Regions from separate parts of the Homo sapiens genome. Here region 1 is linked to region 2. Evidence: fine-mapped QTL for protein levels in blood plasma. A gene starts in region 2. The other region holds a variant in brackets. All regions are shown on one strand. Distances are from middle to middle. Region 1 has its middle 16 kb from the start of AHSG. Region 2 holds the start of AHSG (alpha 2-HS glycoprotein).

Region 1 (16,928 bases), 15 kb before region 2:
TTATATTTCTGTGGATTGCACTGCTCTAAGAGTCTCGCCCAGGCTGTGCCAGGTCACTCAACAGAAGTTGACTAGTACTTTGGGATAAAGGGCCTCATATTTACTCCTATTCAGTTACCTCCCCCTCACTCAGTTGGCCCAGTGGTCCAGTCTGTTACCATGTTTTGGGATCCTCCAATTCAGGCATTCAGTATGAGCCTCTCCACCTGATGTTATCTGTGCACTGTATTGACTGAGACATAAGATTTTCATCTAAACAGTGAATAAAAGCACTAGCCAAAGAATTGAAGTCAACTCTTAGTTAGATTTTGCCACTGAAAGCTTGCTCCAGGTTGACAATCATCTGAACATCAGGGTAAAGTCGTATCAACCTCCATAAGAATAATTGATTTTGCATCTAGCCATATTTCTTTATCTTGTCCACACAGGTATGCTGAGAGATCTTGTTGAAATCCAGTTAGACAACAGCCTGTTAGGAAATGAGGTGTGTCTGTTATGACACTCTTCGTGAGCCCATACTGGGGCCTAGGGATCTTCACTTTCACATTTAGGTGATTTTCTCAGTATTCTGGAATTGTCTCCAGTCCAGAAGACAGGATTTCCTTCAAAGAAAGTGTTTCTTATCATCAATCACCTCTTCCCTCTTGGACTTCCATTTCCTCTTACTGATGTTCACTTTACCCTTTTATATTGAAAACATCATTTTTTGACAGAATATAGAAACAAAACGGGAGGTTTTATGTACCATAGTGTTACCATGTGCATGCTCTAGAATCACACTGATCAGATTCAAATTCCAGTTCTACCATTTACTAGTTGTGCCTTAATTTCTCCCTCTGTAAAATGGTGATAATAACAGTACATGTTTCATAGAGTTGTTGGTTGATTTGACATTTACAACTGGAATGCCTCTCTTGGGATAGGCAGTTCAAAAAGAACAAGTTAATAATATATGTTGCACAACTGAGGTTTGGGAGGCTTATGATTTTTTAAAATTTTCCTTCCCTCTGCAATGCATGATGTTTGTGTGAAGGTGGCGCTAAAATAATGCCGTGAGAGCTATCGGCTCTGGAGCCCCAGACCTGTTTTTTTTTTTTTTTTTTTAAGCCATTTTCTAGCTCTTGCCACTAAAAATCAGGATATTAAGTAAAACAATAATAATTATAATTTTCAATGCAAACTCAAATAATAATGCATTTAACTACCCTCCTCTTTTAGTCTCCCTTAATCTTAACGTAGACAAGGCAGATGCCATACAGGCTGGATTTTGATTTGGAGCCTGATTCTGCCAAATAATAATAATAATAAATTAAAGGATGGTTTCCGAGAATTAGTAACAGTTATGGAAGCCACTGCAAGGGGCCAAATTAGGTGATTAAGAACAAGGCCGAGCACGGTGGCTCATGCCTGTAATCCCAACACTTTGGAAGGCCGAGGCAGGCGGATCCCCTGAGGTCAGGAGTTCGAGACCCGCCTGGCCAACATGATGAAACCCCATCTCTACTAAAGATACAAAAATTAGCCAGGTGTGGTGGCACATGCCTGTAATCTCAGATACTTGAGAGGCTGAGGCAGGAGAATCACTTGAACGTGGGAGGCAGAGGTTGCAGTGAGCCAAGATTGCGCCACCACTGCATTCCAGCCTGGGTAACACACCGAGACTCCATCTCAAAAAAAAAAAAAAAAAAGCAATCATGTAATTAAGTCTTCTGTGTTTTCTACCAGTTAGGTAACATTAAACCAGAACAGGAAATGTGATAATGTTTTCAGCAAGGTGTTTGATGATTCATCTTGTGATATCCCCTGGAGATAAAATAGAGGCACATAGTTGGATTCATAACTCACTAGTTACTGTTGAACATACTGTTGATTAATGGCTCAATGTCAACCTGTAAAGGAGAGAAGAGAGTCTTTGCTGGCACAAAACAAAGCTATGTTTTCAGTCCTGATCTGTTCAATAGTTTTATTGTCAGTGAGCATTTCAGGAAGAGCACTTAAAACACCAGGTGCCTACTGTGTGTAAGTCACAGAGTTTTCACAGCTCTTATATGTTTGTCATTGCAATAAGTCCTAGGAAGGGGCAGGACGCATTAAAACTGACCAGATAAGCTTTTGGCTGTTGTACAATGTTTCAAGTGGGAAAAAGCAACTTAACCTGTAAGAACAGGGTTGGGGTACACCAGCTTCATCAACAGCATTGAGAGGGAAGCATGATTTGACAGTAATGCTATCACGGTGTCATTTGAATTGATGTCCCCCAACATAATCACAAAGGGTCTTGCACTTTGTGGGCAGAGTAACTGTAACAAAATAGAGTCAGTAGAACAAAAAGTATAACCACCAGGGCCATTATAAGAAGCTGTAAGTCTTCGAAATATGAGTTAAATGCCTCTGTGTTTTCTGGTAAAGAAATGTTGACATTGGTGGGAGCAAAGGTCTTCCTCTAATTCTCAGCAACTGGTAGAGAAGAAAAGCAAGGGCATCACAAGAAGCAAGGGGAGAACGTAATGATAACACAAGGGTGGTGTCCTGGTTACTCTTGTCATTGTCATATAACAAATTATCCTAGCATTTACTGGCTTAACGCAGCAACATTTGTTTTTTTCTCACAAATCTGCAATATGAGCTAGACTGATGGAGACAACTCCTTTGCTCTACTTGGTGTCAGCTGGGACAACAGCTTGAAGGCTGGGTCTGGAGTCATTTCTACTCACATGTCTGACAGTTCATTCTGGGAGGTGGGAGGACTCAAGCAGCTGGGAACTGGAAATGGGGAGACTCCTCACGAATCTTTATCTCTGTGTGGTTTCTGCAGCATGGTGGCTATACATAGCTGGACTTCTTACATATTGGCTCAGGGCTCCCAAGACACGTTTCCCAAAAGGAAGTGGAAATGGGTAGAAGCTTTAGTTCTTCTTATGACTTAGCCTCATAAGTCGTGCAGCATCCTTTCCATCGCATTTTCATTTATGGAGGCAGCCACAAAGGCTCATCCCTCTTCCTGGGGAGGGGAATTAGACTGGACCTTTCAAGAAAAGAATCTTTAAGGTTCTGAAGGATATGTAGACCTGCAAATATTGTTGTGGCCATTTTTTGGAAAATACAGTTTGCCCCAGGTGATCAAATGAGACAGCCATACAATTAGCAGCTGAGACTGTGGAACATCAGAACAGCCATGGAGGGGCCACATAGTGCTCACAAAAGGCAAGTGAATTCAGAAAGAATGAGGTGACCATTTGCAAGTCCATGAGTACCAACCCCTATCCCTGCCATCAAGGAAGGAAAGCATTCTCGCAGCTGGAGTTTCAGGGATGAGATCTGAGCAAATGTCACACCATTCTGGCCCCTAGGATTATCCCTTTCTCTGCTGGGGTGCCTGGGAAATGTGGATTACACATCGGTGATATTAATGAGAACATGAGAGATGCTGATCTATGGACACTCGAAACTGAGAGGAATGTCAAATGACAGATCTGGTTTCTCACTATAGCTGCCAACACCTCTCAGATCCCAGTTCCAGAAAAAGAGGACAACTATCTGTTTTTTTAAACCTAATAGTATGAGAAAAGTCTCTTCAAGTAAATTGTATCTTCTACTACTCTACAGGACTCAACATAATCATCACTGAATTTATTTCTTCTGATTGCCAGGCACTGTGCTAGGTGCTGGGATATATAAGAGAGCTTTTTAACATAAAACGCACACACCTAATTAGCCAGCAAGCAAGACAAACAAAGGCTGAATCACTGGCCAGTAAGAAATCTTAAATATGTTAGTTAAACATGGAAAGTTGAGTTCATTTACCACAGAAAGAACACTTACAATTAAATTATGACAATGGCCGGGCGCGGTGGCTCATGCCTGTAATCTCAGCACTTTGGGAGGCCAAGGCGGGCGGATCATGAGGTCAGGAGTTTGAGACCAGCCCGACCAACATGGTGAAACCCCATCTCTACTAAAGATACAAAAATTAGCTGGGCACGGTGGTGCATGCCTGTAATCCCAGCTACTCAGGAGGCTGAGGCAGGGGAATCACTTGAACCCGGGAGGCGGAGGTTGCAGTGAGCCGAGATCACGAGATCACGCCACTGCACTCCAGCCTGGGCAAGAGACCGGGACTCTGTCTCAAAAACAAACAAACAAAAAAATGACAGTAAAACATGTTTCAACAGTCTATGCAATAAACAGAGAAGGAGGCCACACTCTGCATTGCCTGCATTATCCATCACAGGATTTTTGCCCTGGGCCTCACAAGCCCAGTCTGTTGATGAGCAAGTGGTTAAAGCTATGTCCCCTTCATGTGTGGCCATTGCCTTTGTAGGGGGCATTTTGAAGACATTGAAGAAGAACGTAAAGGATTCCTCGATTTTTGATCCACTTAGATGGTAAAACTGTAGATAATGAAAGAGATTTTAGAACTCAGAACAAGACCTTTGAGAAATTCTCTGTGAAGCCCATAAGAACAACCTAAAAATAGGCATTTCTACTTGCTATGGTTTGAATTTTAGCCCCCTCCAAAACTCATGTTGAAAATCCCCGATGTGGCAGTATTGAGAGGGGGAGCTTTTAAGAGGCGATTGGATCATGAGGTGATTGCCTTTGTGAATGGATTAATCTACTCATGGACCAGTGAATCAATAGGGTTGTTGGCTTTTATGAAGAGAAAGAGAGGCCTGAACTAGCATGCTCAGCCCCCTCACCATGTGATGCCCTGCACCATCTGGGGAGTCTGCAGTGTCCTCACCAACAGGAAGGCCCTCGCCAGATCTGGCCTCTTGAACTTGCACTTCTCAGCCTCCATAACTGTAAGAAATACATTTTTTTATTTATAAATTATTCAGTTCCAGATATTCTGTTACAAGCAACAGAAAACAGACCAAGACACTTTTTTTTTTCTCAGCTCATTGCAACCTCTGCCTCCTAAGTTCAAGGGATTCTCCTGCCTCAGGCTCCTGAGTAGCTGGGATTACAGGCACCCACCACCATGCCCGCCTAATTTTTATATTTTTAGTAGAGACAGGGTTTTGCTATGTTGGCCAGGCTGGTCTTGAACTCCTGACCTCAGGTGATCTGCCTGCCTTGGCCTCCCAAAGTGCTGGGATTACAGGTGTGAGCCACCTTGCCCAGCCCCAAGACACTATTGATGTGATATTTGAAGGCACTGAACTTGAAACTCTAGGGAAGAACTCAAACCAGCTCATCTGAGCATGTATGTGCATACAGAGAATTTGATCAAGGAAGGTAATGCAAAACTGAGCTGTCACAAACTATCACAGTACGTGGTTTCTAAAATTTATTTCTATGGTGGCCTTTGAAGCACAAACCTTAGGAATTTTCAAGCCCAGACTTTTATCAGCATGGCTCACTTCTGAGAGGAACTGGCTGAGCTGAGAAGTAGCCATAGGCTACCAGCCCTGAGTGTGGTGTCTCTGGAATTCTGGTGATATGAATCCCACATGAATATGAATCCCAGAATGATAATAAAATTTTGGACACTGTGGCCAAACCGTGGATAATTCCTGGATCCACTCAGTGCACAGATATCATGTTGTCTTTTATTTAACTCTTGCTATAGAAACTGAGAGCCCCCTCAATTACATAGACCTAGGTCCAGGAAGGAAACACACTTAATTGACACACCGCACAGTTGTCCAGAAAGCAGTATGTGAAACTGCAGTCTTCTCATTGGTTTGCTCAAACATGATTGTGCTTAGCTCCGAGTCTACAGTTCTAAGTCCAAGTGCTGGCTCTGCGGTGAGACTGGATTTAAATCCCTTCTCTTCCAATTATTAGCTCCATGACCTTGAACAAGTATGACAACCTCTCTGAGCCTCCTCACCCAACTCATATTGTGAAGATTGAACAATATGATATATTTAAAGTACCTGGTATGTAACAAGCACTCATTAAATATTAGGTATTATTACTGTTATATAATAAATGTGACTAAACTTTTTGAACCAATTTGCATCTCTGTTAAGACATATTTTTGAAACACTAACAAATTTCCCCAATGTCAAACAGTGTAAAACATTCATTGACCTGCACAGGTGTGGATTTCTGACCCCGTGACACCCTTTCCTTGGGAAAAAACCAAGAATGTCTCCGCTGAAGAATATCTGCAGAGAATACATGGAAACCAATCCTACATTCTCAGCCTGCTCTAGGCCCAGAAAAACAGAAACTGCTATGAGGGCTATTACTAAACATGGAAAGAGGGAAAGATAAAACAGCCACAGAGCCTCGGGAGAAATGAGAGCAGACATCTCAGGAGCTGGCCTGAGACACGCCACCTGGCAGAGTGTTTGTATAGCAGGAAGCCTCAGACCTCTGACCTTCACTGCTAGAGATCTGGCAGTCCAGAGTTACAGCGCTTGGTGTGACCCATTGCCTTTCCCCACCAGCACTAGGGTAACCAGATCATCTCTGTTTGCCTGGGACTTTTTCTGTTTTAGCACTGAAAGTCCCATGTCCCAGAAACTTCTCAGTCCCAGACAAACCTGGACAGTTGATCCTTCTAAGCCCCAGCATGAAAGGTGCTGCTTGCATGGAAGCCCATGCAGCTCACGTCATTCAGAACTGTTATGAGCAAGTGCAGAGTGATGGCTGAAGGCACAGGAGGGGCTAGAGCTAGGCTGAGTTCTGAGACTGTCTCATGAAGGAGGAACTCATGAGAGCTGTGCATGGAGACCAGGTCGGGCTGCACCATAGCACAACTGTCACCCGGGTGAACACGTGCCAGGGGAGGGCCAGACCAAGGCAGAGCCTTCCCAAGCTGGTTCACAGATTGGCACACACTGAAAACAACATTCTACATTGCACATTTACGCAGGGGACAGGGAGAAAATAATTTTGTTTGGTACAAGTTGTATATGCACCCTCTTCCTTTATATTAAAGATAAATTATTGCATGTGCTGACTATATGATAAAAACATAAGCATAACTATAATTGGCTTTCATTTCCATTTTCTGTTTATTTTAATGAATAATGTTAAACACTTATACATACTAAGAAGATAGGCTACTTACATGGTTATGGGCTTAAAGGCCTCTGGGGAAAAATATATATAATATATTTATAAATAAATATATATTATATATAAAATATAAATATGTAATATAAAATTTATATATAAATATATATAATATAAACATTGTATATTATATAAAATATATATCATATAAACATTGTATATAATATATATAATATAAACATCATATGTTATATATAAATATATATATTATATATACATTTTGACAGAGTCTCACTCTGTCACCCAGGCTGGACTGCAGTGGCACAGTCATGGCTCACTGCAGCCTTGACCTCCCAAGCTCAAGCCATCCACCCATCTCAGCCTCCCAAGTAGCTGGGACCACAGGTGCATGCCACCATGCCTGACTAATTTTCATATTTTTTGTAGAGACGAGGTTGTAAATATCTTTAAATTTTTTTTTTCTAATCGTATGTTGGCAAAATTCTCCCACTTTTGTTTGCTGTATTCCTTTAAAAATTTATTATTATTTTTAAAATACTGTTTATTAATGTTTTTATATAGAGATGTGGATCTCACTATGTTGCCCAGGCTGGTATTGAACTCCTGGGCTGAAGCGATCCTCCCGCCTCGGCCTTCCAAAGGGCTGCGATTACAGGCAGGAGCCACCGTGCTCAGCCTGTTTGCTCTATTATTTTTTAAATTTTTGTTTGTCTCTTTTTGTTTGTTGTGTAGTTATTAATTTTATGAATCTCCTTAAGGTAAATATTAAGGGATTTTTACAATTTAGATAATAAAATATATTAGTTGTTTGCTATAAACAGTGATATTTCAGATTTTTGGCTGACTTGGACTCCTGACAGCTGGCAACAGCCCACTGGCTGGTCTGAGAGTCCCTGTCACAGTCTGAGCTTGAAGGCACAGTTTGCAAAAACCCTCAAGAAGGAAAGCCCAGAACCAGCAAAAAACATCTTTTTTTTTTTTTTTTTTTGAGACGGAGTCTCGCTCTGTGGCCCAGGCTGGAGTGCAGTGGCGTGATCTCGGCTCACTGCAAGCTCCACCTCCCGGGTTCATGCCATTCTCCTGCCTCAGCCTCCCGTGTAGCTGGGACTACAGGTGCCCGCCACCACGCCTGGCTAATTTTTTTTTGTATTTTTTAGTAGCGACGGGGTTTCACTGTGTTAGCTAGGATGGTCTCGATCTCCTGACCTCCTGATCCGCCCGCCTCGGCCTCCCAAAGTGCTGGGATTACAGGCGTGAGCCACCGCACCCTGCCACAAAGAACATTTTTTAAAATGTTCCTCTATTTGCATGAAAGGGCACTGCCTGCTGTGGAAAGGATGGATCCGGTGCACATTCTATCAACTATGGAGAGTCATGCAGGGAAACAGATTGGTTGCTGTCCAGCTTCCAGGTCATTCTAGTGTCATATTAACTCCCCTTTCCGAGTGCTGCCCGGGGCCTATTCATGCCTACCCCTCCCCATATGACTCAGGGAGGGGCTCTCTGTACTCTTGGCAGCCAGAGAAAAGCCCATGATCTCTGGTGTAGAGATGAAGTGGGCACAATTACATCAAAAGGAGAGAGGGAGAGCTCACTCGTGAAAGCTTTCATTTGGTATAAAGAAACAATCAGGGGGAGAAACGAGATGGGGGTGAAGCTGGAGATATTTCGGATGATAATCTACCTCACTTTCCCTGTGGCTATGTTCTGGGTTTCCAATCAGGCCGAGTGGTTTGAGGATGATGTCATACAGCGCAAGAGGGAGCTGTGGCCACCTGAGAAGCTTCAAGAGTTAGAGGAATTCAAAGAGAGGTTACGGAAGCGGAAGCGGCGGGAGGAGAAGCTCCTTCGCGACGCCCAGCAGAACTCCTGAGGCCTCCAAGTGGGAGTCCTAGCCCCTCCCCTGATGAAATATACATATACTCAGTTCCTTGTTATTCAAAAAAAAAAAAAAAAAAGAGAAAACATCAGGAGCAATTGTAGGTTTCTTCAATGGGAAAAATAAGATTAAAACAATATACTTCATTGCTTAAACATTTATTAAACAGCCACTATGTGCATGAACTTCAGGAGGCACTGGGAAACCAGGGATACCCAGAGCCCAGCTCCTACACAGAGGAGTCCAGCCAGTGCAGGGTGGGGTGCAGGCCGTGCTCCAGCCTGTCCTCCGCAGCAGATCCCTGAGCTCAGACTCCTCCCAACACACAGCTTAAGAAGGTGCCTTCCAATCTATTAGGCATCCTCATCTGGGGTTTGCTGATGATGAGTCTGGTTTTCTTTCTTTCTTTCTTTCTTTCTTTCTTTCTTTCTTTCTTTCTTTCTTTCTTTCTTTCTTTCTTTCTCTTTCTTTCTCTTCCTTCCTTCCTTCCTTTCTTCTTTCTTTTTTCCTTCCTTCCTTCCTTCTCTCCTTCCCTCCTTTCCCTTCCTTCCTTTCTTTTTCCTTCCTTCCTTCCCTCCCTCCCTCGCTCCTTCCCTTCTTTCTTTCTCTTTCTTTCCCTCTCTCTTTCTTTCTTCTTTCTTTTTCAAAACAGAGTTTCACTCTTGTTCTCCAGGCTAAAGTGCAGTGGCGCGATCTCAGCTCACTGCAACCTCCGCCTCCCAGGTTCAAATGATTCTCTTGCCTCAGCCTCCCAAGTAGCTGGGATTACAGGCGTGCGCCACCATGCCTGGGTACTTTTTTGTATTTTTAGTAGAGACGGGGTTTCACCATGTTGGCCAGGCTGGTCTCAAACTCCTGACCTTGAGTGATCTGCCAACCTCAGCCTCCCAAGCTGCTGAGATTACAGGTGTGAGCCACTGTGCCCCAGCCTGGTTTTCTTTTTTTTTTTCTTTTGAGAAAGAGTTTCCCCTTCGTCACCCAAGCTGGAGTGCAATGGCACGATCTCGGCTCACTGCAACCTCTGCCTCCTGTAATCCCAGCTACTTAGGAGGCTGAGGCATGAGAATTGCTCAATTGCTGGGATTCCAGGCACACACCTCCACGCCTGGCTAATTTTTGTATTTTTTGTAGAGATGGGGGTTTCATCATGTTGGCCAGGCTGGTCTCGAACTCCTGACCTTGTCATCTGCCCGTCTTGGCCTCCCAAAGTGCTGGGATTATAGGCATGAGCCACAGCGCCTGCCCTGGTTCTGGTTTTCTCCACTCCTGCAGCATGGTTTTCATCACCTTCTCCCACCTCCCCTTCCTCCTCCTTCACACACATTCTTCTTTGAAAATGTCATCACCACCTCCTCTATGTATGGCACGGAACCAGACCCTGGCCACCGCTGTTTATAGCAAGAGAAGCGGACCATAGTAGAGGAGCTGTGCCAAGCAGGCCCTGTGCTCTCAGGACAGCAGTAAGTTGTAGCTGCTCCAGACCTGACACGTGTGCTCTGAAAGGTGACTTCATTCCTTGTTGATGAATGCATCTGAATGGAAAGTGTTAGAATGATAGGAACTTTAAGTCACACACTTATTTTAGTATTTAACAAAATGCCTCGGCTAAGGAAAAAACTAAACAATTGAGGCAATTGCAAAAAATCAAAGTCTGACAACCTCATGGTTATAGCCCTGTTTCCAGAGTAGTAGGCCCCCTGGCTCTGCCCTTGTGCACCCCAAAACAGCCTGGCCTGTAAGTGGAAAAGTACATGTGGCATGTGTGTGTGTGTGTGTGTGTGTGTGTGTGTGTGTTAGAGACACCATCAGAGAGTGGCAGGGCAGAGACAGAACTTAGGCTCGTAGCTGCTGGTGGGTTAGAATTTCTACTTGGGTGGAGCTCAGGTAGCCTGGCCGGTGGTGAGGTGGACTGACATGTCACAAAGTGGCGCTCACATAGCATTTTATGTTCAACTGAGAAAACACCAGTCATTCATAGCAAAGGAAGGGAAGTGCTGACGGAAATTAGGGTGCCCTAGGCCCCATCCCCATCCACTCCAGGTCACCCTGTATGCCCCGATTCCCTGCTCGGGTTCTCTGGTCAATAATTTTTCCCTGGACACTGAATAACAAAAGGACTTTGAACTTACACTTCATTACATCAGAAAGTCACTGAACCTTGACCTGTTAGTTTTGGATTTTCTACCAAGAGATAATGCTGCCGCCCCTCTTTACAATCTCCTCTTTACATGTCGTCTCTGTTGGTTTAAACTGTCCTTGGTAACCATTTCCTATCCCTTCTTAAATGTGACGTTCCCAAATTTCTTTTGGTTAAGGGTTGTATTCTCTGTTCACTTTTCAGAATATGCTGTGTTTTAGTATACAGTGAGTGGACATTGTTTTTTAGCAGTGATCAAATGACATAGGAACTATGAGAGGACCACTCCCTTCTTCAGGGCGTGACTGCCTGCCCTGGGCACTGCTGCCTTCTCCTAGACACTGCGGCCTGTTGCTGGGCACTGCTTCCTCGACCCGGGCACTGCCCGGCTACTGGACCCTGCCCTCTCCTGCCCCAGCTGAGGCCACGGAGCACCCAGGGCCATCCAGAGCTCTGTGCAGACTGTAGAGGAAGGCCTCTTTTCTCTGCTGTGTTACAAGCTGTCAACAGGCATCAAAACAGAGATACCTGAACTTCCTGGGGTCCTCTAGGGACAGTCTCTTCAGTTCTTATTTGTAACAGAACTTGGATATGAGTTCAAAGTAGGGCTGAGCCAGAAGCCAAAACTAAGCAACACTCTTGTTGTTCCCATTGATCACGGAGGCTCTGTTACCAGGCCAGGCCTGTTGGTCCTGACTCTCCAGCCCTACTGCAGGTGGTCCGTCCCACTAGTTCCCAGAGAGCAGCAGCACAGCTTGGAGGAGGCTGAGGCTCTGGGACTGCACAAAACATACTAGCTATCTATGCAACTCTGTCCTGTTTAATTCAGGAGCGGGAGCTGAAACTTTTAGAAGCTATGGGACACATATTGGAAAAGAAAAATCAAAGCTTGGCAGGGCGTGGTGGCTCACGCCTGTAATCCCACCATTTTGGGAGGAGGAGGTGGGCGGATCACTTGAGGTCAGGAGATCCAGACAAGCCTGGCCAACACGGTGAAACCCCCTCACTACTGAAAATACAAAAAATTAGCTGGGCATGCTGCCGGGCACCTGTAATCCCAGCTACTTGGGAGGCTGAGGCAGGAGAATCACTTGAACCCGGGAGGCGGAGGTTGCAGTGAGACGAGCTTGCACCACTGCACTCCAGCCTTCCACTCCAACAAGAGTGAAACTCCATCTCAAAAAAGAAAGAAAGAAAAAAGAAAAATCAAAGCTTGTTGAGCAAGTGGCAAGGTTCAATATTTATGCAAATCTAAGGAATACAACAACATGTACATTGGCACGTCATTCACAATATGCTGAGTTAATATAAGTGATGACAGTCATATGTTCATAGACATACAATTTCAAATGCAAATTTTAGGATAGTCAGTTGAGGGTAGAAATTGTGAGATTTTTAAAAGAAAAATGCCTTTTTCATTTTATGTTGTTTCTCATCTGTGTCACTATGGTATGACTCTAGGTGATTTTGTAAGAGCCAACACTTGCACTGTTTTCTGAACAACTCCAGGCTTCTGTTTGGGGAAACCCACCCTGAGGGAGTGAAGCAGGAGTTGTCGCACTGTGGGGCACACGACACAGGGCAGGATTTGGATCCTGGTCAGAATTCTGCCTCTACCTCTTGCCAGCTGTGCAAATCCCTACACAGAAGTTGTGATATAAAAGATCAAGAGAGCAAGATAGATGATGAGAATTGTATATTTTTTCTTTTCTCTTCCTTCCTTCGTTTCTCTTTCCTTCCTTCCTTCCCTCTTCCTTCCTTTCTTCCCTCCCTCACTCCCTCCCTTCCTTACTTCCTTCC[T/TTCCC]TCCCTCCCTTCCTTCCTTCCTTCCTTCCTTCCTTCCTTCCTTCCTTTCTTTTTCTTTCTTTTCTTTCTCTCTCTCCCTTCCCTTCCCTTTTCTTTTCTTTTCTTTTCTTTCCATGTTTTGCTACATTGCACAGGCTGGACTCAAACTCCTGGGCTCCTAGTAGTCTCATCAGCTACTAGATACTCCTAGAAGCTGGTGATACTATAGGCACATGCCATGACACCAAGCTTGATAGGGATTCTTAATTGATTTTTCCCTTGGTCTGTATTTGATCTATTATTTGACCTGTTTTAAGTATTTTTCTTTTATTTAAATGACAATTTTTTCCCATTTTTTCGAGTCAGGGTCTCACTCTGTCACCCAGGCTGGAGCGCAGTGGTATGATCATAGCTCACTGCAGCCTCAACCTCCTGGGCTGAAGCAATCCTTCCACCTTAGCCTTCAGTGTAGCTGGGAATGCAGGTGCACGCCACCATAACAGTTATTTTTTTTGTTTTTCCTAGAGACAGCATCTCACCATATTGCTGGGCTGTTCTCAAACTCCTAGGCTTAAGTGGTCCTCCCAACTTGGCTTCTCAAAGTGCTGGGATTATAGGTATGAGCCACCACGCCCAGCCTCAATTCCATATTTTTCTTTTTTTTTTTTTTTGAGATGGAGTCTCACTTTGTCACCTAGGCCGGAGTGCAGTGGCACAATCTCGGCTCACCACAACCTCCACCTACCAGGTTCAAGTGATTCTCCTGCCTCAGCCTCCCGAGTAGCTGGGATTACAGGCGCCCATCACCACTCCCAGCTAATTTTTGTTTTTAGTAGAGACTGAGTTTCACCAGGTTGGCCAGGCTGGTCTCAAACTCCTGACCTCAGGTGATCCGCCTGCCTTGGCCTCCCAAAGTGCTGGGATTACAGGCTTGAGCCACCGCGCCCGGCAGTGACCATATTTTCAATTTAAAATTTCTGATTCTTTAAAAAATCTGCTTTTCTCCAGCTGTGCCTTGAGGTTTCGATGAATAACATGGCTGGATTTAATTTATTAGTTGGGCAGGCACCTAGCAGAGTGGTAATTGGAAGAAAGGATTTTAAAGACCTTGAAAAAGGCTCCCTATAGAAAGGCCACCTGAGCATGGCATTCCTGTGGAAGGGCCTAGATGTGAGCAGCTCAAGAGCAGACTCCAGGTTCACAAGGATTTCTACCATTCCCTAAGCAAAGTCCATACTCCTACACCTCGACTTTGCCAACATATTCCTTCCAACCGATAGCCGTACTCCCATTTCTATCTATCCAAATCCTGCCCATCCTTCAGGGTCAAATTCAAAGTGTCCCCTGTCCACAACACCTTCTTTCCTCTCCCCCTGTCCACCCTCAGCTGGAAATGATCCACTCCCCCCACCCCACCCCCACTCTCCTGCAAATGCCTACAGCACTTGGTTCCTCTAACGTACTAGTTATGATTAATGACTGGCTATATGATTTACATGGCCCAATGCAAGATGAAAACCCAGGGCCCTTGCTAAAAATTCAGGCTGGTCAACATGGTGAACCCCTGTCTCTACTAAAAATACAAAACTTAGCCAGGCAGGGTGGCACATGCCTGTAGTCCCAGCTACTCAGGAGGCTGAGGCGGGAGAATCGTTTGAACCTGGGAGGCGGAGGTTGCAGTGAGCCGAGATCGCACCATTGCACTCTAGCCTGGGTAAAAGACCGAGACTCTGTCTTGAATAAAAAAAGAATTTCAAGACAGCCACAGCAGAACATTCCACAGGCACAGGGTCCTTTTAAGTGCAGGGGCCTGCACAGGACACACACCTGGAAAGCCAGCCCTGGTGATTATACTTGCAGACTCCAATGGGAAGCTGAAAGTCCACTGGGCAAACACAATCTTTTAAATGCCTACGGAATCCCCTCCCAGGGAAGCTTCTGAGCTGCTCGCCTCTCCTTCCTCAGCCCTGTTTCATTGTCCCAGCACCTCTGTGCCTGCTTCTCCACCTTGCAGGAAACTTAGCTGTGTACTCGCATCCTGAGCCCCAACCAGCCACTCTGACCTATGCCTACTGCCTTCTTCTCTTTGAGTCCTGCCTCATTGGGTTCCCTGAGTTGGCCGCTGTTCCTTGTAGCACAAAGAATGGGGAAAGATTGATCGGTTACTTTCCTACAGTACCACTATCCCCCTTTTGTTCCGGTTCCTCTTGTTACAGGAAGTTGCCGACACACAACCCTCTCTTTGCCAGCCTGTTGATGGAAAAAGATGTGACCTCTAGCACTGTTTACCTGTTATATTTCTACCGTCTGAGTAAGTGGTAATATAGCCGCTTACCTGATGCCAGGAATGCTAAGCATACCGTATTACTTAATGCTCTCATTAGTCCTTTGAAGTATACATTGCTGCTATTCCTTTTACAGAAGGATAAAATGAGATGCAGTGAGTTAAGTAATTTGCCTGAGTTGTTAAAGCTAAGGAACCCTTACTCTTAGCCACCAGGATGTATCGCTTCTAGAGACAGGCCACTCGAAGGCAAAGACCGTATCTTGGTCTTTAGTGTTCCCTATATTGCCTCTTTGTGCTCTCAGTCCTAGTGTATTATTAGAGCTATAAAGAACTCTCATTTATCGGCCAGGCGCGGTGGCTCATGCTTGTAATCCCAGCACTTTGGGAGGCCAAAGCGGGTGGATCACCTGAGGTCAGGAGTTCGAGAGCAGCCTGGCCAACATGGTGAAACCCCATCTCTACTAAAAATACAAAAATTAGCTGGGTGTGGTGGGCACCTGTAATCCCAGGTTCTCGGGAGCCTGAGGCAGGAGAATCGCATGAACCCAGAAGGTGGCGGTTATAGCAAGCCGAGATCGCGCCACTGCACTCCAGCCTGGGCGACAGAGTGAAACTCCATCCCAAAAAACAACAACAAAAAAGGACTCCCATTTATTGATACCTTACCCTGTGCCAGGCCCTACGCTGAGCATTTTGCAAATGTTATCTCACTAAATTTTCAGCTCATCTCTACTAGCCAGGTTTTACTGCCCGTATTTAACAGATGAAGAAACAAAGGCAGAGCCAGATTTAATCTCTAGTTAGGTCACATAGCAAGTAAATAGTGGCACCAGGGTTTGGACTTGGGTCTATCCTGATTCTCCATGTAAGCTCCCTCATCAGGTTGCTCCCACACCTCTTCCTCCCACCCATCCAGCCTCTCTCCATCTTACCCTTACCTTCCTGCAAGTATCCATCCTCCCACGCCTCAGTCTCCATTAGAATCTGAATTCTGGCAGGGCGCGGTGGCTCACGCCTGTAATCCCAGCACTTTGGGAGGTCAAGGCAGGCAGATCACCTGACGTTAGGAGTTCGAGACCAGCCTGGCCAACATGGTGAAACCCCATCTCTACTAAAAATATCAAAAATCAGCCGAGCGTAGTGGCGGGCACCTGTACTGTAATCCCAGCTACTCGAGGCTGAGACAGGAGAATCGCTTGAACCCAGGAGGTGGCGAGATTGTGCCACTGTACTCCAGCCTGGGTGAGAAGAGCAAAACTCCGTCTCAAAACAAAACAAAACAAAACAAAAACAAAAGAATCTAAATTCTGGAGGCTCAATCTGTTGTTTAACCTACCAAATGATCTCGCTGCCTGTTGCATAATCCCAGCACAGACAGAAAACTGCCCACATTAGCTGCCCTGTCCCTGTGATCTGCACCTTCTCAATTTCAATTTGTCTCCTTTTACTATTCTAACAAGAGCATGAGAGGCAAAGACTGCCCATATCCTCAAGTGTATTCAAGAGATCAGACAACAAAGAGTGAAGAAATGCTACAGCCAAGAGCCATGCCAGATCCAAGCAGAGTAGGAGGCTTAGTCCCCTCTTATGGGTCTTCCATTAGCCTCATATATTTTCCCTCTCAACATTCAAGAAGTCTCATCAAGGTAGTCTATGGAGAAGAAGGACTTGTTTGTTGGTTTCATTGTTAATCTTTCTGAGGGTCCAGATATGCCTCTGAAAACCAAGAGAACCCCTCCTGTCCTGCCAGTAGCAGCTGGCTAATCTTCATCCTGTAATTGTTGAATTGTCCACATGTACACACATGTGCATGCACCAGATCACACCCACTCAGAGAGCTAAGAATTAAT
Region 2 (9,440 bases):
GCAAGGACTGCTGTGTTTTGGGGCCCATTGCACACATAGGATCACCAGCCCAAATGTTAAAAGAACTTCCCTTGAAAGAGAAAAAATATTTGATGAAGTAGAAACGTTTTTTCTTTTTTGGAGACGGGGTCTTACTCTGTCACCCAGGCTGGAGTGCAATGGCGCGATCTTGGCTCACTGCAACCTCCACCTCCCGGATTCAAGCGATTCTTCTACCTCAGCCTCCCGAGTAGCTGGGATTACAGGTGCGCACCACTATGCCTGGCTAATTTTTGTGTTTTTAGTAGAGATGGGGTTTCTTCATGTTGGCCAGGCTGGTCTCAAGCTCCTGACCTCAGGTGATCCACGCTCCTTGGCCTCCCAAAGTGCAGGGATTACAGGTGTGAGTCACCGCATCCAGCCAGAAACATTTTTTCTATCCTGGGTTTCGATTATGCCTCTTCCGCAGGGCAGGACAAAGGTACAGCAAGAGAGGCCTAGAGCACAACACTTAAGAAGCAGCAACCTCAAGGGAGAGGCCTCCTTGAAATTTGCACCTTTACCCACTCCCTTGCCCTACTCTAGTCCAGGCCTTACTGTTCCCTTTATATGTTCTCAAATGCAATTTCCTTTCTGGGGTTTGGATTTGCAGAGCTAGGTCCTGCTTATCAGGGCAGCGTTGGAGGAAGGCTTGCAGAGCCCTTTTTCCACCCCAAAAGATGGAGCCATTACTTATGGTCATTTTTGCCACCTGCGGTTGGGCCCACATCTCCCAACTTTGGTGCTGAGTACAAGGGGCTCTTCCTAATTATGGGTTGATGACTTCCAGGGTGCTTGGTGCTAAGTTACTTTCACAAGAAACCAGATGGGTCCTTGGACAAAGGTAATTTGCTTTCATTCACTGGTGCTTTGCATTGGCGAAGTAAATCCCAACCTGTCTCCACAGGAAAATATGATAATTTGTATAATAATATTATGATAGTTTCATATATTAACATAAAGTTCTTTGCTGATCAGGCATTGCCGGACTAAATGAGTCAAGATGAGCTCCTCCAGAGCATGTGGTTCTCATCACTCTGTGTCCAGGCATCTGATAACACAGATAGTAGGTGCTCAATAAATGTTTGTTCATTGAACATATGAATGAAGAAACACCCAGTCTTTGAGTGAAATTAATACCCAGTCTATCAGGGCCTAGGCCCTTTAAGTACCAGAAAGGGCAGAGCCATGAACCTGACCTAATGATTTAAAAACCAACCACTGCTATTTCCTCCCTACAGAAACCAGTTGTCCTTCTGGCTTTTGCTGACAGGCACTTTTTCATCTTCTGTTTTGTGAGAGGCTGGTTTCTAGCTATCACCTTAGCTCTTGCTGCCTGACGGGATATTTCATATCTTTCTATATCTATCCTCTCCCTCCTATACCCACATCCACTAATGGAACCAACCTCTGAGAAACTCTGACCCTGAGCTCTGACCCTGGTGATCTTTGTTGTTGTGGCTCCTGGCCTGCAACTATAAACACTGAATTCTGCCTTGGAATAGTTTAAATACAACACTTGCCCTAGTGGCTCCCTGGCAAAGAGTCCTTTTGACAAATTCAGGAACCCTGGTGCCATCCTTAGCTGCTGCTCTACTTTGGATGTTTGTCCCCCCACGTCTCATGTTGAAATGTAATCCCCAATGTTGGAGGTGGGGCCTAATGGGAGGTGTTTGGGTCATGGAGACAGATCCCTCATGAAGGGCTTGGTGCCATCCTGGTGGTAATGAATGAATTCCTGCTATATTATTTTCCGTGAGAGCTGGTTGTTAAAAAAAGAAAGAAAGAAAGAAAAAGCCGGGCATCTCTCCTCTCTCTCACCAAGAGCTTGCGCACGCCAGCTCTTCTTTGCCTTCCGCCATGAGTGGAAGCAGCCTATAGCCCTCACCAGAAGCAGATGCCGGTGTCATGCTTCTTGTACAGCCTGCGAACCATGAGCCAAATAAACCTCTTTTCTGTATAAATTACCCAGCCTCAGGTTTTTCTTTATAGAAACACAGATGGACTAAGACAGCTGCCATCTTGAGATTTCTGCCATCAGCCACACAAGGGTTGCACCCAGCAAGCACTGCCCGGCACCCTGCTGCCATCTCCTGGAGATTGTTGATCCTCTCCTGCTCCTTAGACTGTTGGGCCTGCTCTCCTTGACCAGTTCTAACAAGCCCTTGATATCCTCAATACACTATCAGCCATCATAGTGTGAATGGAATGAGGATTATTTTATTGCTGTGATGTGAGCCTCATAGAAAAATGCACAGAAAAGTAACTAAAATAATGCAGCAAAGGACCAGAAAATGGAGGAAATGCCTATCTCCTACTGATATGCAAAGAAGCTGGAGCCAGTTGGATCAAACTGACCCAAGATTACTCATGAGTATATGTATTCAGCACGTGAAGATCACTCATGAGTCCCATATACATTTGGCAAGTGAGAATCTTTTAAAGTTTAAAACTGGTGTCATCAGGCACAGGGAACTACCCATTGGCACTAATGCTACAGCCATCTTGGAAAACATACCAAAATATCATCTATTTTCTTCCTCATTTCCAGTAAGTAAATGGCAACATTTCTTTCTAAGGAAACTGAAAAAATCTAAGGGATCATTTTACTCAGCTTGATACCAAAGTTATTTTAGTTTATAAGTATTAGACATATGGAGTAGCTGTGATAAAAGCAAAGATATTCATAAATTACATTTTTAAAAAAGAATTCTGAGAGTGTTCACATATCTAAGTTCCCACAAAAGTCAGCATGAAAGCAGTAACAGAGGAAAAGAGAAAACAGCTGAGCTGACATCACACAACAGCTAAATGGAAGGGGGATAAATTGGCATAGCCAAATAGACTATTTGACTATAAAAATTAAGAGCTTTAAAAATGTGCAAATCATTAGAATCAATAATTTTACTTCTAAAAATCTATCCTGAAAAAAAGAATCAAAAGCCAAAGATTCCTAAATAAAAAAGTGTGTTTTTTTGTTTTTTTGTTTTTTGTTTTTTTTTTGTTTTTTTTTGTTTTTTGTTTTGAGACAGAGTCTCACTCTGTTGCCCAAGCTGGAGTGCAGTGGCACAATCTCCCCTCACTGCAACCTCTGCCTCCCAGGTTCAAGTGATTCTCCTGCCTCAGCCTCCCAAGTAGCTGAGATTACAGGCGTCCAGCACCACGCCCAGCCAATTTTTTGTATTTTTAGTAGAGATGGGGTTTCACCATGTTGGCCAGGATGCTCTCTATCTGTTGACCTCATGATCCACCTGCCTTGGCCTCCCAAAGTGCTGGGATTACAGGTGTAAGCCACCGTGCCTGGCCTGTAAACATGTTTTTAAGTCTACTTAATGACATAGGAAAATATTCAAGTTAAAGCAATAGGTGAAAAAATTTTAACAGCTGTATATGCAGTATAATCAAAATTATATTAAAATATTATTTTACATAGAAAAAAAGAAAAGATATAAATGCATCAAAACATTAACACTGTTTATCTCTGCATGATGAGATTGTGAATGATTTCTTTTTTGAGACAGAGTCTCATTCTGTTGGCTGGGCTGGAGTGCAGTGGCACTATCATAGCTCACTGCAACCATAGCCTACTCCAGGTCTTATGCTATCATCCTGCCTTCATAGTTGGGATTACAGGTGTGTGCCACCTTACCACACTTTATTCAATTTTTCTTTTTTTTGAGTCGGAGTCCCACTCCGTTGCCAGGCTGGAGTGCAGTGGCGCAATCTTGGCTCACTGCAACCTCCACCTCCTGGGTTCAAGTGATTCTCCTGTCTCGGCCTCCCGAGTAGGTGGGACTACAGGCGCGCGCCACCACGCCCAGCTAATTTTTGTATTTTTAGAAGAGACAGGGTTTCACTGTGTTGGTCAGGTTGGGCTCAATCTCTAGGCCTCGTGATCTGCCCACCTCAGCCTCCCAAAGTGCTGGAATTACAGGTGTGAACCACCGTGCCCAGCCCTTCAATATTTTTAAAGATTATATAAAGAAAAGCATAGCTTCCACACACAGTTCAGGAGTCAGGGCCCTGAGTGAAATGGAGTATAAGGTGATGGAAGATTGCCCCTGGCTTTGAGGATCATCTTGCTGGATGACCAGAGTTTGTTTTTCATCTGGAAGAATCATGGTCCCCCTCTTGGAGAGAACCTGGAGTCCTGGCCACACCTTCTGAGCTTCTGACATTAAGATTCGGTGTGGTGTGTGAGCAGCTGGGAGTAAATGTGAGAACAGTCCTGCCAACTACCTTCTCTGCCCCATCACCACTCACTTCACCTCCCTCACCCCGATTCTCACCCCAGAAAATCAATATTAAGCTTCCCTTTGGAGGGGCCCCTCTTCTTTCTTTTTTTTTTAACCAGTTTTTTTTTCTCTGAAGCAATATCAAACATTAGAACAAATTCACCCACACACAATGATGGCCTCTAAATATTTGAAGACCATGTTGGTCTCCATGAGAGGGCTTCTTTGCTTCAGACTAAACCAAACCAGGTCCTTGTGTGATATTTCCCAAGCCTCTCTTTATCCTGCCAACCCTCCTTGGATGTCACACTTGGAATTGTCAAGGGTCACTTAATAGGCAGTGCCTGGAGTCAACACTGGCCCTCTGTTCTGGCCAGAAAGACACACTGTAATTCTGCTGAGTCTGCAAAGAATGTTCAAGGGGTATTTGTGTCCGTAGCTGCTCGTGCAGCATCTCAGCCTGCGGTGTCAGACTCGAACCCAGAGCTGTGTCAAATGAGTCAGGACTCCCCTCTGCTGCCCTTGTGCACTGGCAGGGGCACTAGGTTACTAGTGCTAGGAGACTCTGGTCAGTGCCCATCTGTGCTGTCACATGCAGGGCCCTGGCAGTGAGGTCTGGAGAAGGAAGAGAAGGGGCAGGGAACCCCACACGTTTTGCTGGTCATTTCCCACCGTGGTCCTGCCACGGGAACCCCCTTCTTCCACCTCCATTCCCCACTTTAGGCAGAAACATCTCTCATCCTTTTTCTTTTCTCCAAGAATCTTCCCCCAAAATCTTGGCATCTCCTATACACATCTGTACCTTTGCTATATCTGTGGGCCTTGTTCTCCCTGTAGGACTCCTCTTGGAAAGCTAACTCCCCCTGACATTGGAGAATTTTATCAAATTGCTGAGTATCCTCCCTTCCCTCTCACAGACCCCATGGCATGCTCAGATCACAGTAGAAGACATTTCCTCTGCTGCCAAACCCATGGCACTCTGAGGCTGACTGTGTCCACCTCATTCCCTCAGCTGTCTTCTCTTTGCTGCTATTACCATGTTCCAAGCAGACTTTGGAGCATCTCCCCCACAGCAGCATGGACTTTGGCAGATTTCTTGGGGACCAGCGATGTCCTAACCTGTTTGCTTTTCCAGGGCTGATGTTTGCAGGGTGTTTTTTTTTTTCTTTTGAACCAAAGCAGAAATCATCCTGTATCCTTATGCAATTCTTCCGGCAGGCTCCAACAGATAAATAAAGCCCACCACCCTCCATGGGTCTACCTTTCCCAGCAGAGCACCTGGGTTGGTCCCGAAGCCTCCAACCACCTGCACGCCTGCCAGGGCCTCTCTGGGGCAGCCATGAAGTCCCTCGTCCTGCTCCTTTGTCTTGCTCAGCTCTGGGGCTGCCACTCAGCCCCACATGGCCCAGGGCTGATTTATAGACAACCGAACTGCGATGATCCAGAAACTGAGGAAGCAGCTCTGGTGGCTATAGACTACATCAATCAAAACCTTCCTTGGGGATACAAACACACCTTGAACCAGATTGATGAAGTAAAGGTGTGGCCTCAGGTAAGTGGACCTGCTGTCTATGAGCTGAAATAATGTGTACATGGAGCTCAATCAGGTGCCTCAAAAAATCACCATCACCCAGTGCAAATGAAACCACAGAGGAGTAAATTCTCTGATTTCTTCCCAGGAGTGAGGGAAGGGGCAGGCAGAGGGCAGGAGAGGAGACATTCTGTATGGCAGTCATGGGTGTCAGGAGGGAGCTGGGTGGGGTGTGAGGTGGTGTGCAGGAGAAAAAGTGCTTCAAATGGTAGTGTGCAGATCACAGACAGAAAGTGTAACTTGCTGGAAAAACTAGGACCCAAGAGACCAGCTCCTAGTTGCCAAGTTACCACTGGCTGAAAATCACGTATCTGTCTTTGGTTTGGTTTCTCTCTAACAAAGACTGAGAATGAATAAAACTAGCATCTGGCAGATGCCTACTATATGCCAGGCCCATTCACATAGATTATCTCATTTACTCTTTCCCGGTCCTGCCTCCTGGTGCTGTGTGGTACATATATTGTTCTTGTCTTACCCAAGAGGAGACCAAGGCTCTGTTGTGTGTGTGTGTGCAGTTTTTTTGTTTTTTGTTTTTGTCTTTTTTTTTTTGGTCCAAAATCATATAATTACTAAGTCTTCAGGCTGGGATTTGATTCCATATCTGTGTTCCTTCTTCTACACAAACTGCCTCCCAAAGAGAGTTACCCACATCCCAGAGAGAAGTCTTGGCATAAACACAATTCACCTCCTCACACACTAGACAGGAAACCAACGCAGCTTGAAGCCAGTGACAAGAAAAATCAAGCTGGAAATATGCCTCGGGGATCAGTCAAGAGATTTGGAGAGGTGGAAAGAAGCTGTCTGCCTACTGCCTGTTTTGAAATTAGATTTATTTCTGATTAAGGACAATTCTTTCAGCAAATATGTATTACAAGCCTTCCTTGGACAAGAACCAGAGATATTAGGTTGAACCATATAAAACTGCCATTTTTCTATATCAAAAGCAACCAAATATTGGCCGTTTTAATGGTTCAACCTAATACAGTGGTGAAAAAGGCACAATATGTGCCCACAAGAGCTTACAATCTAGGTTGGAAAATAAGGTCAACAACAGGAAGCCTGGACCGACTGACGACTGCCATCCGTCTCACAAAGAGACAAAATATTTGAAATCAGGATTGCTCCGGATGGATTTTAAGAGTGCTGCAGCCATATTAAAGCACAGTGGTGGTTAGGAGGAAACGCTGATCAAGTCAGGGGAAATGAACACGCAACACGCACATCTGAGGGAAAAGGTAATCATGAATGGGCATTGTGACTTTTACTAAAGGCAGAGCTTCAGAGTTGGTTCCCTTGAGAAACCCAGGTGTACCCGGTTCCTGTTCGCCAGAGCTGTGAACGCTTTCAGGCAGTCACTCTGGGCACACCTGGACATCATAAAATGCGGAGCTTCTCCCAGGGGAGGGGATGCTGAGGCTTCAGGTACTAGTGAATCAGGCAGAACCAATGAGAGGCAAACAGAGCTGGGCTGAGAGGAGAAAAGGCATACTTGTACCTTCTGGATTTTTCAGGCTTCGAAGACAAGATACAGAAACAGGTGAACTCACAAGAATATCTCCAAGGATTGTTGCAAGCTCCCTCGTGTCTACACTAGTGACATCCAGTTTCCTGTCAGAGGGAGACATGCCCTTCCCCATTATCGCCAGCAGGGGGAAGTAGAGAGCAGCATCGTTGCATGCCGGCACCTGCTGCACAAGCCAAGACAAAGGAAAAACCAAGGACAACAGCAGCAAAAACCTCTAGGAGGGAAAAGAAAACGGAGGAAGGAAGGAAAGCAAATAATGAAAAGGAAGAAAGAAAGAAGGAGAGGGAGGGATAGAGGAGATTAAAAAAAGACAGTAAGATATTACCCTACACCACCTTATTTTGCAGCTTGTCTGAGAAAAATCCAAACTTGCATTTTCCAAAGCACTGCTTGAAGAGTGAAATCTTAAAAAATTAAATAAATAATAAATACAAATAAGTGTTAACACCCATTTGTAGTTTTCAAATAGAGCTCAGAGTGAGGGCTGTGGCTCCATCGACTTGTTCAAGCCCAGGACCCCGTCTGCTTTGCGAGCATCATCTGGTGCTTCCTTAATCAACAGACGAAGACCAGACAAGCCCTGGTCATTGTCCTGCCCACAGGCCAGTTCAGAGCTAGACGGAGTTGCAGACTGACAGTAAGAATGACATTTCCCTCACCTCTCCAAAAGCGGGGTGCTCTCAAGCCCAATGAGGGCGCATACCGTGGACCGCACCACAGGATCAGGGGAATAGGTTGCTCACGGCTTCACTCTTTGTCTCCACAGCAGCCCTCCGGAGAGCTGTTTGAGATTGAAATAGACACCCTGGAAACCACCTGCCATGTGCTGGACCCCACCCCTGTGGCAAGATGCAGCGTGAGGCAGCTGAAGGAGCATGTGAGTACCCTTCTTAGGATGACTGTAGGTGGCCCTTCGGCCAGCTCCACCGATTCACCCAGCGTCTCAGCCTGCCTTCTTGGCTAGCCAGGGTGCAGTTTCTAAAATTGCCATTTGTGGCCGAGCGCAGTGGCTCATGCCTATAATCTCAGCACTTTGGGAGGCTGAGGCAAGTGGATCGCCTGAGGTCAGGAGTTCAAGACCAGCCTGGCCAGTATGGTGAAACCCCATCTCTACTAAAAATACAAAAATTAGCTGGACGTGGTGACGGGCACCTGTAAATCCCAGCTCCTCGGGAGGCTGAGGCAGGAGAATCGCTTGAACCCGGGAGGTGGAGGTTGCAGTGAGCCAAGATCCTGCCATTGCACTCCAGCCTGGGCAACAACAGTGAATCTCTATCTCGAAATAATAATAATAATAATCATCATCATAAATAAAATTGCCATTTGATGCCACTTGCCCTGGGGCTGATTTTTACAAGCGTTTAACTATATCGTTGTATCCCTGAAAGCAGAGAGTGCCATGTTTCAGTATTACCCAGCAAAGGCGATTTTGCAAGGGTCACCTTTGACAGCCGTGCCTGGAGGGAGCCTGCCCGGGGTGCGAAGGGGAAGGGCAGCCATCCTCACGTGGGTTTCTTTCTCCAGGCTGTCGAAGGAGACTGTGATTTCCAGCTGTTGAAACTAGATGGCAAGTTTTCCGTGGTATACGCAAAATGTGATTCCAGTCCAGGTACAGATGACTATTCTTATTCTCATTTTTTCCTTGTAGAGAAAGTGGGGAAGGGATCTGAATAATTTTCAACTTAAGTAGTTCTAGCAGCTTTGTCGGTGAGGAAAAGGAGAAGCCAAATTTCCTGGGTTCTGGGATTTTTAAAATTGTGTTTTAAGAAGCTACTCTTGGCCTGGTGCGGTGGCTCACGCCTGTAATCCACCCACCCGAGGCAGGTGGATCACCTGAAGTCAGAAGTTCGAGACCAGCCTGGCCAACATAGTGAAACCCCCATCTCTACTAAAAATACAAAAATGTGGTGGTGCTCGCCTGTAATCCCAGCTACTAGGGAGGCTGAGGCAGGAGAATCGCTTGAACCTGGGAGGCAGAGGTGGCAGTGGGCCGAGATCGCACCACTGCACTCCAGCCTGAGTGACACAGAGTGAGACCCTGTCTCAAAAAAATAAGAAGTTATTCTTACTG

What was found. PIP is the chance, under the fine-mapping model, that this variant and not a neighbour inherited with it causes the effect. Sun 2018 read protein levels with aptamers (SomaScan).
Region 1: its variant is fine-mapped to the plasma level of the AHSG protein (Sun 2018, PIP 0.95).

What each region holds. Positions count from the first base shown.
Region 1 is chr3:186,588,335-186,605,262 of GRCh38, forward strand. It overlaps the pseudogene PET100P1. Among named protein-coding and RNA genes, the nearest start is that of AHSG, 16 kb to the right of the region's middle. RefSeq lists an enhancer at 8,606-8,900. The variant T/TTCCC (reference allele first, on the strand shown) is at 12,813.
Region 2 is chr3:186,607,550-186,616,989 of GRCh38, forward strand. AHSG (alpha 2-HS glycoprotein) reads left to right here and starts at 5,511. Exons shown (of 7, transcript NM_001622.4): 1 at 5,511-5,805; 2 at 8,136-8,246; 3 at 8,894-8,978. The coding sequence starts at 5,593.